Homo sapiens: one gene and its partner. The protein of the gene in region 2 interacts with the protein of the main gene of each other region in a pairwise test. Each region holds a gene or a part of one and is shown on either strand. Other genes may lie near its edges.

Region 1 (7,000 bases), on a different chromosome or scaffold from region 2:
CAAAGATAGGTTCTCTAACAACAGGGAGAGAATATATGAAATAGGAATATGTCTATAAAACGACAGTCTACCAGTAAGGAAAATAAGTGATCCATAAAACAAAACATCTGACTGTAGGTCTACCCAAAGAAAGGAAAAAGGACTAACAAACAAGAATATAGTGCTTTACCATTTACAAATCTTTCACATACATTCTCATTTGACCCTCACAACAACCCTGTGAGGTAGGCATCACGGACATTCTACTCATTAAACAGATGAAGACAGTAAATCTCAGAGTAGTTCACTGATAATGCCCAAGGCTCTACAGTTAGTGAGTGATTTGTATTAATATCAGTCTTTGGCCTAAAAATTCAGCACCCCTCTTCCCCTTATACTTGTCCCACCTACTTCACAGGGATAATGAAGATAAAATGAATTCAAGGCTAGAAAAATACTTTGAGGGAGAAAAGCACTATATAATTATACCTACAAACTATGATTTTCCCCAATATATGGCTCATTCCTCTTCTCATCTCAGCTTGTGTGTGAACCCAGAGTTGTATATTGCCTCTGTCCTGTGCTCAGTAAGCAAATAAGGCAGGCAGGGGGTACAGTGTGATCCTGTTTAAAGTTACATAAATTACAATCAGGGTAACTGCTATTATTAGGCAAATTGAAAAACAGCACAGAAAGGCCAGTGTGCAACTAGGACCCACTAAAGCTCAGAGGAAAGCAATGCAAGATTATCAGACAGGCATGATTGCATAGAAGGAAAATGTGGTGTCAGAGTTCAAACTGGCACACACACACACAGTTATCTAAGGCAAAGTGGTGGCAAAGAAGTTATTTGTTCCATGTCACACAAACAAGAGCAGAAGATTCATGGGAACCCGTACAAAAGCATCTTGTGTCACACAGATCTCTCCAGCTGCCTATAGGGAATATACAGAACAGTGTCACCTTCAAAGAATGACTGTACCTGTGTTCATATCCTGAACTGCACCAAGGAATAGCTCCATGCTAAACTGTCTTGGCTAAAATACAACCAGTGCCATCATTCCTAATCAGACTAATAAACAGAATGTCTTTTAAGGTAATGAGTTAGATGGCTGTGTTTAGGTTTTGTTCAGGATTTACTTTGGATTCTCCTGCTTTAAGACCCAAAGAAAGTTATATTGAGTTTTTATTGATGATTCTATGTGTTTTTAACAGAGTGTGATAGGTGAATTAAACATATTAAAAGAGTTCTATAGCATCTGTTCAGAAAAGATTATATACTATACAAACTATTCAAGTCATACAAAACCATTTTTCATTGTCTTTCAAACTGAGAAGAATCCTATTCAGCACGCTTCTCCTCCTGAGGTGGTTCATACTGAGCAAGCTATGGGGCAAAGACAGAGGAATTTAGGTGAATTTTATTCTAAATTGAGTAAAAAATAGTAAAACAAGGTAACTGTTATATTCAACTTAGTTACTGTCAGTAAATTGTATTAATATCAGTTTCTATAACTATCCATTTTAAATCATTCAGTGATTTAAGATTTAATACAATCAAATCTAATGAAAGCCCTTTTTATATAAACCTTTAAAATTGCTTTGAAACTAAAATTTCATTCCAGTTCATGACTGCACTGTTCAAATACTTGATATGCAATAAACTATATCTTCCCAAAGATTCATTTGCTTATAAGGAACTTTCTTCCTCTCCAGCAAAAGTTTACTGAAAATACCCACTGAAAAGTAGATAAAGAGTTAAGTGACATGTCTTAACTTAACCAGCCAATAAACAACTACTAATGTCTTTGAGTTAAAAGGTTCCAAAGAGTTAACTAGCACTACACATTGTGGAATCTTGGATAATTTAAAATAACTGCATTTTCTTTTATGCTAAGTGTGGTTCCTTGCAAGAACACTAGGCTAACATTAGGGTTCTGCCAACTACCTGTTGGAGTTGAGAAGCTTATTAGACTTCACTGTGCTTTCGTTTCCTCACCTATAAAGTGGCTTGTGTACTTGTTTCACTTATCTCACAAAGTTGTTGAGAAGATAAAATATATTATGAGAAATACTTAGAGTAATGTAAAATACATTATGTGATTAAGAATGTGGTAAGACCTGAAAGACTTAAGAGTTGACTAATTTGAAGTTCATGAAAATTCTCACAGGACTTTGAAAAAAGAAAAAACTGGCTGGGTGAGGTGGCTCATGCCTATAATCCCAACACTTCGGGAGGCCAGGCCAGGAGGAACGTTTGAGTCATGAGTTTGAGACCAGCCAGGGCAACATAATGGGACCCCATTTCTACAAAAAGTTTAAAAATTAGCCGAGCATGGTGGCAAATGCCTGCAGTCCCAGCTACTCAGGAGGCAGAGGTGGGGGGATTACTTGAGCCTGGGAAGTCAAGGCTGCAGTGAGACATGACTGCACCACTGCACACAAGCCTGGGTAACAGAGAACCTGTCTCAAAAAAAGAAAGAAAAAACTTTAGCACTAGATAAAATTAAGTCCTAACAAATTTACAGAGGGCCGCTACATATGGCCTTGCAAACTATGAACCATACAAATTCTAAGAAGTGCCATTTACAAAGCAGTCGCCCCATATTGGCCTACTTAAAATCAACTGCTTAAGAACCTCAGAACTGACCATTTACTTATAAAGAACATTAACCAATATTCTCATCCTTTTAGTAATACAGGTTCCTAAGAACCTCTTTTTTTTTTTTTTTTTTTTTGAGACAGAGTTTCATTCTTGTTGCCCAGGCTGGAGTGCAGTGGCACAGTCTCGGCTCACTGCAACTTCCACCTCCCGGGTTCAAGCAATTCTCCTGCCTCAGCCTCCCAAGTAGCTGAGATTACAGGCATGCACCACCAAGCCCGGCTAATTTTGTATTTTCAGTAGAGACGGGGTTTCTCCATGCTGGCCAGGCTGATCTGGAACACCTGACCGCAGGTGATCTGCCCACCTCAGCCTCCCAAAGTGCTGGGATTATAGGCGTGAGCCACCGCACCCAGCCAGAACCTCTTCTTGACCACACTTTGCTTCTTTGCTTGTCCTATTTCCAGTATGTCTTGCGGTTTTCTTTTTTTTTTTTTAACCCCCCTAGATGAAGTCTTGTTCTGTCACCCAGGCTGGAGCACAGTGGCACGATCTTGGCTCACTGGAACTTCCATCTGCCGGGTTCAAGCGATTCTCCTGCCTCAGCCTCCCGAGTAGCTGGGATTATGGGCACATGCCACCATGCCCGGCTAATTTTTGTATTCTTAGTAGAGACAGGGTTTCACCATGTTGACCAGGCTGGTCTCGAACTCTTGACCTCGTGATCTACCCACCTCGGCCTCCCAAAGTGCTGGGATTACAGGCGTAAGCCACCGTGCCAGGCCCGTCTTGTGGTTTTCTTGACAGGGCATAACTTTGGCCTTACATTGTAATTAATTCAAATTGATATTCACCCACCTCCCTCCCCTCCTGTCCATTTCAGTGAGGTTTTCATCATACAATTATTACAGGTAAAATTATTTGAATATGAATTCTTTTTAAAAATTTACCTTTGCTTTCAGTTTTTTATTTTCTTCTACAATAGCTTCATACTTCTCTTTCATTTCGGCCAGTTCTAGGCGAAGCAGCTCTATTTCTGGATTTTCTGGAGTAGCAGCTCCTAAGTGATGCTTTAAAAAACTATTATCAATGTTAAGAACTTACTTCTTAGACATGAATGAAACTAATGAAATAGCACAGAGTAGTATCAATATCCCTGACCAGAGTCACCCACTTTACCACCAATATCTACCCAGAGATCACCATCCAAAAACTCAAGTGAAACTAACTTTCTTGGCCAGGTGCGGTTGCTCACGCCTGTAATCCCAGCACTTTGGGAGGCTGAGGTGGGCACATCACGAGGTCAGGAGTTTGAGACCAACGTGATGAACATAGTGAAACCCCGTCTCTACTAAAAATAAAAAAAATTAGCTGGGTGTGATGGTGGGCACCTGTAATCCCAGCTACTTGGGAGACGTGAGGCAGGAGAATCGCTTGAAGCCAGGAGGCGGAGGTTGCAGTAAGCCAAGATTGCGCCACTGCATTCCCCACCAGGTGACAGTACAAGACTCCGTCTCAAAAAAAAAAAAAAAAAAGTAACTTTCTCAATATTCAGAAGTATTTTAAAGGTTATTATCTATCTAAAAAAATAAGAGTTTCAAAATAAAGCCTTTTTCTGACTTGAAAGGATACTCCAAAGCACTGTTAGGTTTCTCTGGTTCTTCATATAAGGCTACCAACACTGCAAATCAAAAAGCAGAAAAAGCAACAATTGACGTATTAAATTTGAATGGCTGAAATTATGTTCCATTACCCAGTAAATATTAGGTGCCAACTATACGCTGAGCACATTGCAAAGACTATACAATGCTGAACAAGACAGACAAGGTCCCTGTTCTCAACAAATTTACAGTCAAGCATAAAAGATATGCAAGGAACTAGACAGAGGGTATCAAGCAGGAATACTGGATAATGGGTTGCAGTAGCACACTGGAAGAACACCTAAGCAAACCTAGGACATCAGGGAAGGCTTCCTAAAGGAAGGCAAAGACCTGATACCTAGGGGTTGAGTGTTTCAGATAAAATGGGAAGGCCCAGGAGCAAGAAAACAATGTATTGAGGAACTGAAAATTCAAGTATGGCTGGAGATGTAATTTGGCAGGAAAGGAAGCTGGAAAGGTGGTCATGGCCAGATTAGGGAGAGTCATGCAAATTTGGTTGGCACATAATTAAACAGTTTAAAGGAAGGGAGTGACAGGATCCACTCTTAACTGCTATGTGGACCAGCTGGAGTGGGACAAGGATAAAGACAGGAAGAACAGTTAAAAGGCTGATGTGGTAATCCAGTTTAAAAAGACAGCAACCTGCAGTAGAGTGATGGGAGTGAGAGAACAGTGAGAAGAAAGAAATTCGAGAATTTAGGAAAGAATCAACAGGACTATGGTAATTACCGGAAGAAGCTCTGAATTCAAAAATGGTCTTAAAAATTAAGTTTGTTTTGCTAAATAACCACCAACCAAAAACTTTACCAGTAGTCAACATGCTCAAATCAACATTAAAATAAGATATACTTGAGTGGTTTCATATCTAATCACTCATATGAGCACTGCCTTGCTCTTCATCTATGGAACAAATTCCTCCTAGAATTTACTACTTAGATAAAAAACTCTAAATCAGTGGTTGGCCTTTTTGTGCATGGAACCCTTTGAAAAATCTAATAAAAGCAAAAAAAGTAAACACACACAAAAAAAATGTGGCTGGGCGCAGTGGCTCACACCTGTAATCCCAGCACTTTGGGAGGCCAAGGCGGGCAGATCACGAAGTCAGGAGATCAAGACCATCCTGGCTAACACAGTGAAACCCCGTCTCTACTAAAAAATACAAAAAATGAGCCAGGCGTGGTGGCGGGCGGCTGTAGTCCCAGCTACTCAGGAGGCTGAGGCAGGAGAATGGCGTCAACCCAGGAGGCGGAGCTTGCAGTGAGCCGAGATCGTGCCACTGCACTCCAGCCTGGGCGATGGAGCAAGACTCTGTCTCAAAAACAAAAAAACAAAACAAACAAACAAAAAAACAGTGATAGATATCTAGACCCCAAGTTAAGTCCTGTTGTAAACCAACTTACATACTTCCCTTTTGTTCTTTTAGAGTTTTAATAACTTACCAAAATAATATACAGTATGAAAAAATCACTATTTTTTGAGAAATTCATTTGGTTTTTTTTTTTTGTTTTTTTTTTTGAGATAGAGTTTTGCTCTTGTTGCCCAGGCTGGAGTGCAATGGCATAATCTTGGCTCACCACAACCCCCGCCTCCCAGGTTCAAGCGATTCTCCTGCCTCAGCCTCTCTAGTAGCTGGGATAACAGGCATGTGCCACCATGCCCGGCTAATTTTGTATTTTTAGTAGAGACGGGGTTTCTCTGTGTTGGTCAGGCTAGTCTCGAACTCCCAGCCTCAGGTGATCCACCCACCTCAGCCTCCCAAAGTTCTGGGATTACAGGTGTGAGCCACCACACCTGGCCAAATCCTCATTTTATAAGACATGAATATTAATACTCTACTCTCTCCTCCTCTTATTCCCCCACCCCATTTCTTTCAGCTTCTCATTTGTCACTGGTACTTGAAAGGTTGATAGTTGCAGAAGATACTGTAAATACAAAGTTTCCTGTGCTGTTCTATAGATGAAATGCACTTCCTTGTAATCAGACAAGAACTCTATACCCAATCATGCTCCCCTTTTTGCCTTCGCAGCCAGGATTTTTAGAGGTTGATATAGCGCTCAAAATAGCTAAAATGCTTCAGCTTCCAAATGATTTATCATCTTTAGCCATCCTTTCATAGTGTTTTAATGTTATAAACTATTTCAAATCATCTTGGAAATAAGCTGTAAAAATTTAGGCCAAAGTGGCTCATTCCTGAAATTCCAGCACTTTGAGAGGCCAAGACAGGAGGATTGCTTGAGCCCAGGAGTTTGAGATCAACCTGGGCAACACCCCAACTCTACAAAAAAAAAAAAAAATTGGCCAGGCATGATGGCTCACGCCTATAATCCCAGCACTTTGGTAGGCCGAGGCAGGCAGATCATGAGGTCAAGAGATTGAGACCATCCTGGCTAACATGGTGAAACCCCGTCTCTACTAAAAATACAAAAAAAATTAGCCGGGCATGGTGGCAGGCACCTGTAGTCCCAGCTACTTGGGAGGCTGAGGCAGGAGAATGGTGTGAACCCGGGAGGCGGAGCTTGCAGTGAGCAGAGATCGCACCACTGCACTCCAGCCTGGGTGACAGAGCAAGACTCCGTCTCAAAAAAAAAAAAAAAAAAAAATTAAAAATCAGCCGGACATGGTGGTGCGTGCCTGTAGTCTCAGCTACTTGGGTGCCTGAGGTGGGAGAATTGCTTGAACCTGGGAGATTAAGACTGCACTGAGACATGACTGCACCACTGCACTCCAGTCTGGGCGACAGAGACCTTGTCTCGAAAAA
Region 2 (7,425 bases):
GGATGATGCGGTCTGTGGAGGAAATGCGCTTTCTATTTAGGGAGGCTGTTTAGGAGTAGCTGACGACATGCTCAGCACCTGGATGGGTGGAAATAAACAGAGACATGAAGCAATAATTTATGCCGTGTCCTCTGTCAACCTAGCCACCACCTCCTCCTCCCTGGGCTCCAGGAAGTTGCTCAGAGTTGTGGCGCTGGGAGGAGACTGCGGGAGCTATGCTGGTGAAGCGATGCTGTCATCTGAGCTTGTGCTTTACACACACTGGGCTTTTTTTTTTTTTTTTTTTTTTGAGACAGAGTCTTGCTCTGTCACCCTAGGCTGAAGTGCAGTGGCGCAATCACAGCTCACTGCAGCCTCGACCTCCCAGGCTCAAGCAATGCATCCACCTCACTCTCTTGAGTAGCTAGGACCACAAGGGCATGGCACCACATCTGGCTAATTTTTAGAAATTTTTTTGTAGAGACGGGGTCTCACTATGTTGCCCGGGCTGGTCTCAAACTCCTGGGCTCAAGTGATCCTCCTGCCTCAGCCTCCCGAAGTGTTGGGATTATAGGCACAAGCCATCATGCCCAGCCCCCTCCAGGCCTTTGTACCTTCTGTGTCCTCACCTGGAGTACCTGCCCCCTGAACTACCCATTGAACTCTTTATTTAGTGGCCCACCTCCTCTAAGAAGTGCTACCTCCTCTAAGAAGGCCCCCCTCATATCCAGTCTGTGGTTCCTAAATTGCAGCTAATGACTACCCCATGAGCTCACACATTAGAGTTGGAAATCTACTTTCAAATGACCCCACTTTGTGTCTAAAGCACTCTGACCTTCTTCTACCCCCACCCCAGTCGCACATCAGTGAGCTTCAGGGAATCTCTGGAATTGAATACAAAGTCATGTGCAAAATCAGATGTGCAAATGTATGGATAAACAAAATACAGTATACCCATAAACGAAATATTATTCAGCCACGAAAAGGAATGGAGTCACTGATACGTGTTAAGTGAAAAAAAAAAAAACAGACAGAAAAGGCCAAATATTGTATGATTCCATTGATATGAAGTATCAAGAATAGGCAAATCAGTAAAGACAGAAAGGAGCTTAGCGATTGTTAGGGGATGGGGGTCGGGGCTGGGGAATGACTGGTAGAGGGTTTCCTTTGGGGATGATGAAAACATTCTGGATGTAGGTAGTGTAGGTAGTGGTGATGGTGGCACTACATTGTGTGTGTACTAAATGTCACTCAGTTGAATATATTAAAATGGTGACTTTTATGTTATGTGTATTTTACAACAGTTTTAAAAAAAGTCAAATGCACGTTTCTCAGGAGAAGATTCCTAGGTTTGATTGGCTTCTCAAAAGGTGAAGCAGCTCTGATCTGGTCTGGACCCCTTCATGTCATGATGCAGATGGTGATACTGGGACACAGACAGGGGGTGAGACCTGTCCAAGGTCACTCAGGGGCTGGTGGCAGAGCCCAGCCAGGTTGCATGCCTGCCTGACCACATACTCCCCTACCTGCTTCTTCCCTTGTCCTTTGGTCACCAAACCCTCCCGTCACAATCCCCAAGCCTCTGTCCTGCTCCCAAACATGCCACCCACAAGCTGTGTAACTTCCCAAAGTTAAAAGGCCTTCTTCCTGAAACTGGGTGCACGGATTAGAGTTTCATGAGCGTTTGTCTTTTGCTCTAGAGTGGACTCTGAGCTCCTAGAGGGCAAGAGGAAATGTTTCTTATTTTCCTCCATATCTTACAGAGCTTCTGGGACAGCCACGGAGGTGAGCCATTCCTGTCTCCCTTCAAGAAAGAACTTGCCATTCACCCTCAAGGAGGGCAGTTAGCTGACAACTTCTAACAAACATTCTTTGCCCAGAGGACATGCTGGGTTGGCCAAGACTTTGTTAGATCTGCAGCACAGTCTGAGGCTCTCCCAGCCCTTTCCTGCTTCCTCTCCCTCACCGGCCTTGCCACTACCCCCTCTCTCCGCAATAAACCTCTTGCGGTCCTATGTTCATCTCAGTGCTTGCTTCCTGGAGGACCCACATGGCACAGCACCTAGCCTGCTGGATCATAAGTGCTCAGTCGCGAAGTAAACGGAACTGGGGATTCTCTAGAGGGTAGAGGGAAGCCAGAGCCTGGGCCTCGGAGAGCAGGAGAGGGGCTGTCCGTGGAGGATGCCTCAGTCATAAGGAGAGCAAGGTCTAGAGCAGTGTGAAGAAGGGGCCATGGCCCTGGAGCAGGACCCAGCAACGGGCAACACACAGGGAACTCAGGGATTCACCAGCACTGCTGGCATCGTCTCTAGCTCCTCCGCTGTCTGGGGCAGCTCTTGCAAACTCAGAAATGTCCCAGGAGACAGGGTTCAAAGAGCCCTGGCCTTGGACTTTAGAAAACCAGGTTCAATTTGTGCTTCCCGCTAGTCAGGTGACATTACACCCTTCTCTCTGGAGCTCAGTTTCTCCGTTTGTAAAATGGGCTTATAATGTGTCCCCTCCCTTCAACCCCAGCATGATTTTGAGAATTGACTGAGAAGATACTACAGTTTATGGAGGGCACCCTGTTTCGTAGTTTAAATGCACACTCAGGCCAGGTGAGGTGGCTCATGCTTGTAATCCCAACACTTTGAGAGGCCAAGGCGGGAGGATCGCTTAAGCCCACGAGTTCAAGACCAGCCTGAACAACATAGCAAGACCCTGTCTCTACAAAAAATTTAATAATTAGCTGGGTGCAGTGGCACATGCCTGTAGTCCCAGCTACTCGGAAGGCTAAGGCAGCAGGATCATTTAAGCTCAGGAGTTTGAAGCTGCAGTGAGCTATGATTGTGCCACTGCACTCCAACCTGGGCAACAGAGTGAGATACTCGCTAAGAAAAAGAAATACATACATATTCATTTAACCCTGGCAGTGGCCTTGTGAGAGCAGCATTATGACCTCCATTTTATGTATGTATATATGTATGTATGGATGTATGAGATGGGGATCTCACTTTGTTGCCCAGGCTGGAGTACAGTGGTGCAATCAGAGCTCACTGCAGCCTGGACCTCCTGGGCTCAAGCAATCTTCCTGCCTTAGCCTCCAGAGTAGCTAAGACTACAGGTGTGGGCCACCAAAGCCAGCTAATTAAAAAAAAATTTTTTTAGGCTAGGCACGGTGGCTCACGCCTGTAATCCTAGCACTTTGGGAGGCCGAGGCGGGCAGATCACGAGGTCAGGAGTTCGAGACCAGCCTGACCAACTGGTGAAACCCCATCTCTACTAAAAATACAAAACTTAGCCAGGCATGGTGGCACTCGTCTGTAATCCCAGCTACTCAGGAGGCTGAGGCAGGAGAATCGCTTGAACCTGGGAGGCAGAGGTTGCAGTGAGCCGAGATGGCACCACTACACTCCAGCTTGGGCACAGAGCAAGACTCCGTCTCAAAAAAAAAAAAAAAAAAATTTTTTTTTTTTTTTAGAATGGAGTCTCCCTACGTTGCTCAGGTCAATTTTGAACTCCTGGCCTCAACCAATCCTCCTGCCTCAGCCTTCTAAAGCACTAGGATTGTAGGCCTGAACCACTGTGCCCAGCAGAGAAAACCGGCTCTCTAGGTCAAGGCATTGGCTCAAGAACACACAGCTAACAAGCCGACATAGCTGGGATTAGAACCCAATTGTCTGGCTCTAGAACCCCTTCACTATTTGAGGTACAATTTACTGCCTGACTACTAGTGCTAAACTTTGGGTTGGGGGCAGGGCCTGAGGCAGCTCCTGCTCTCATACATTCTGAGAGCCAGTTTGACAATAGGCAACTACACAAAAAACCGAAATAATCCCAGAATGCCTCAGGGCTCCAGGGGAAGGCGAAAAAAGCGGGTGCGTTTATAAACTTAAAATAATCAGAGGCAGCATCTCCAAGGACTGTGAGAATGCCCCAAGTCAGGGCAAAAGTTTTGGCTGGTTTGGGAAGTGATGAAAGGCCAAAGTGGCTGCAGCGAGCGTGGACCCGGGAGGTCTCCAGGCGCGTTGGTGCGAGTTGGGGACGGCAGGCAGGGACACCTAAAACCTACGGTACGCCACGAAGGGGTTTCAGCACGTCCTGAAAGGCCCGATCCCCCCCCAGAACCGCTGTGAGGGGGGCAGAGGGAGGTCCCTCGACAGGATGTGGCCTTAGTCGAGGAAGGCGGGAAGCAGGGGCTGGCACCCCCGACGCCCCACCCGCCCCCCGTGGCCTAGCAGCAGGGCGGGGCGAGGCGGGTCATGCACCCCTACCAGCCAGCCACTCCCACCCAGCCCTCGGCTCCCGCAACTCGCGGGGGTCCTCGCCCGGGTCCCCCGCCCCGCCCCGCCCGGCTGGTGACGTCACGGCGCTCGTCGGCGCCGCCTGTGGCGTCACAGGCCGGGCCCGCAGGGCTTTCTAGGGGTCCGTCGCTCTTGAAGCCGCCGGCGGCGGGCGCGTGCGCGGCCCGATGAAGAAGGAGGTTTCCAAGCCGTCTCCGCCCAAGTTGATCGGTGGATGCGCGCCCCCGCGCGGGGCACCGGTTGCTGTGGACGCAGTGGCGGCCGTTGGCTGGCGGGTGCGGCGCAGCCTCGGTGTCTCTGGGCCGGCGGTGCAGGGCAACGTTTCATGGTGCCGGGCGGCACCATGAAGTCTCTAAAGAAGGATTCCCGCCTCAGAATAACTCCGACCAGATTATTAGAGGCCTCAGAGAATGTCAAAGGTTGGCGCTGGCTGCCTTGGGCGCTCGGGAGAACCCGAGAGGGGAAGCGGTCCCCGGAAAGAGTTCAGGACACGGGGCCTGGAGGATGGGGATGGCACCAGGGATGGAGGAAAGATCACGGGGAAGTGGGGTACTGGGCATAGGACCCTTAGGGATGGGGGGCAAGGCAGGAAGAGCCTACAGCGCACTGGGCCTTGGGGATGGGGACATAGGAAGTGGGAGACTGACAGAGGGGCCTCAGGGACCACTGGCTGGGGAGATGGCCTTGCGCTACCTCTAACCACATCTTAGGGTGGCATGCAGGAGGCAGGATCCCCGGACTGGATGAAGTGCAGAAGAGCCAGGAAAGAGTTTAAGGGTAGAAGGGCCAGGAATTGGGGTCCTTGGGAAGAGGAAAGAATGAAGTGTTGAAACCAGCCACCTTGATGGGATTATTTGGTAGAGGAGGGTCGGGGAGCGGGGCAGGCGTCACTTAGGATTCCTGCTGGAAAAACCCAGAAGAAAGGCCTTGCTTGGCTAGTTCTCTTTTTGACTGCCTTTTCCTACCACGTGCACTTTCCAGCTGGATGACACTTATCCAGCTCCTTTAGCCTGGAAAGAATCGCTAGATATGACTGCTTCCTACCCTCTACAGCTTTCTTCTGGTTGCACCTGGGAGAGCCACAGGGCGTCTGATAGCGGACTGACTTCCATGGACATGTTCTCACTTGCAACCCACCCCCTTTTGATCTTTTTTGGCTGTTTCCATTTATTTATTTTTAAATTTAATTTTTAGCTTTTTTTTTCTGTGTGTGTGTGTGTGTGTGTGTGTGTGTGTGTGTGTGTTTGTAAACAGGGCTCTCGCTGTGTTGCCCCAGCTAGTGTCAAATTCTTGGCCTCAAGCGATCCTCCTGCCTCGGCCTCACAGACTGCTAGGATTCCAGGCATGGACCACTGCGCCCAGCCTATTTTTGTTTACTGAGAGCTGATTTTGTGTGGTACTGTGGCTCACCAGAAGGGTATCGGTATTAACTGTGTGACCCTGGTCCTCAAGAAACTCAGTCTAATGAACACCTGGAGGAGTAACCTGACAAAGGTAGAAATACAAATGCTGTGATGTAGGTGCCCATCGGGCTTAAGGGGGCTCAGAGCACCTGAGCCAGACCAGGGATGGTTGTAGGGGTACGTCTTCTGAAGAAGGTGACATCTATGGCAGACAAGAAAAAAAAGGAGAGGTTTGCTTCTCTAGGTCTAGGAAGCAGCATGAGTTTATGGAACTGTAAATGTGGGAACCAGAAGAGGCTGCACAGGTGGGTAGGTCAGGGGCCAGACCATGAAAGGGCTTTATGTACTAGGTCAGAAAGCCTGGATGTGCTCTTGCAGGCCCTGGGGAGACCCAGCCTCAGAGTTGTGAAAGCTCATTGTGAGGAGAGGGGACCCTCAGAAAACTAACAGGAGCTTAGTCGCTTTTCAGTATGGCTTTATGTTTCTTCACGTATAAAAGTCCAACGTTGAGCCGGGCATGGTGGTGCACATCTGCAGTCTCAGCTGCTCAGGAGGCTGTGGCAGGAGGATTGTTCCAGGCCAGGAGTTTATGATCACACCTGTGAATAGCCACTGCATTCCAGACTGGGCAACACAGTGAGACCCCCATTATTAAAAAAATAAAAGTCCAATGCTGTTTTATGACATACTATATATATATATGTATGTATTTTATATATATTATGTATATGTGTATATATGTGTGTGTGTGTGTGTGTGTGTGTGTATATATATATATATATATATATATATATATATATATGTATTTTGAGACAGGGCCTCGCTCTGTCACCCGGGATGGAGTGCCGTGGTACAGTCATAGGTCACTATAGTCTTGAACTTCTGGGCTCAAGTGAACCTCCTGCCTCAGCCTCCCAAGTTGCTAGTATTACAGGTGCACACCACCATGCCTGGCAAATTTTTTTTTTTTTTTTTTTTGTAGAGACAAGTTGCCCAGGCTGGTCTTAAACTCCTGGGCTCAAGCGATCCTCCCACCTTGGCCTCCCAAAGTGCTGGGATTACAGGCATGAGCCACCGTGCCTGGCCCGTGACATACTTTTTAATAGTTGAGAGAGAGGGAATATCTGGTCTCCTTTCACAAGGGCAGTCAAGGGCTTTCCTAGCCACTGCCTCCTGCTCACATAGTTTCTGGGAGATCGTATCAGATTTGAACTGCTGTAAACAAATCAAGGAAAGATTTTTCACTGCATATTTATTTTTAATAAGCAGAAAATTTAGTTTGTTAATTAACCCTTGAGTTAAGAACATGCACCAGAGTGAGGAGGGAAAAAAAATGAAGTGTTTAGCATGCAAGATATCTTTTTAAAAATATCTCAGGGGAGCCTCTAATGTTGTAGAGCAGTACTCTCCCCCAGCCCCCATACAAGGCAGCTAATGACCCAGTGTCATTTTGTAACCTTGTGCGATGTTTCTCCAAAGTCTCTGACTCATAAGCAAAAAGGAAAGCAAAAATAGTGACTTAAACCTGTTTCTCGGGACCTGAGAGCCCTTTTGAGTCCTAGTACCCTCCCTTCCTGCTATGCACCACCTCCCCACCGCTGTCTTGTTGCTAAGAAACCAAGAACCCTCCTAGCAATATTAGATTCCCCTCCCCAACCAATTAAAGCTCTGCCCTAGTAGGGACAGCCCCTCCATGGTTCCCCCAGCCCAACCCTAAGGTCAGAATTTCCCAAAGACTTTAATCAACACTAAAAACGAAT

The links. The genes of interacting proteins can lie anywhere in the genome.
Region 1: the proteins of MYCBPAP (region 2) and MYCBP interact in binary tests that used the Homo sapiens proteins (3 or more experiments, as listed by UniProt).

Annotation. Positions count from the first base shown.
Region 1 is NC_000001.11:38,863,349-38,870,348, forward strand, and holds part of MYCBP (C-Myc-binding protein), read right to left. Parts: intron 4,263-7,000; coding exon 4,214-4,262; intron 3,662-4,213; coding exon 3,532-3,661; intron 1,367-3,531; coding exon 1,322-1,366; 3' UTR 1-1,321. UniProt on the Homo sapiens protein: May control the transcriptional activity of MYC. Stimulates the activation of E box-dependent transcription by MYC.
Region 2 is NC_000017.11:50,504,070-50,511,494, forward strand, and holds the start of MYCBPAP (MYCBP-associated protein), read left to right. Parts: upstream 1-4,369; 5' UTR 4,370-4,476; coding exon of another isoform or gene 4,477-4,605; coding exon 4,606-4,681; intron 4,682-7,425. UniProt on the Homo sapiens protein: May play a role in spermatogenesis. May be involved in synaptic processes.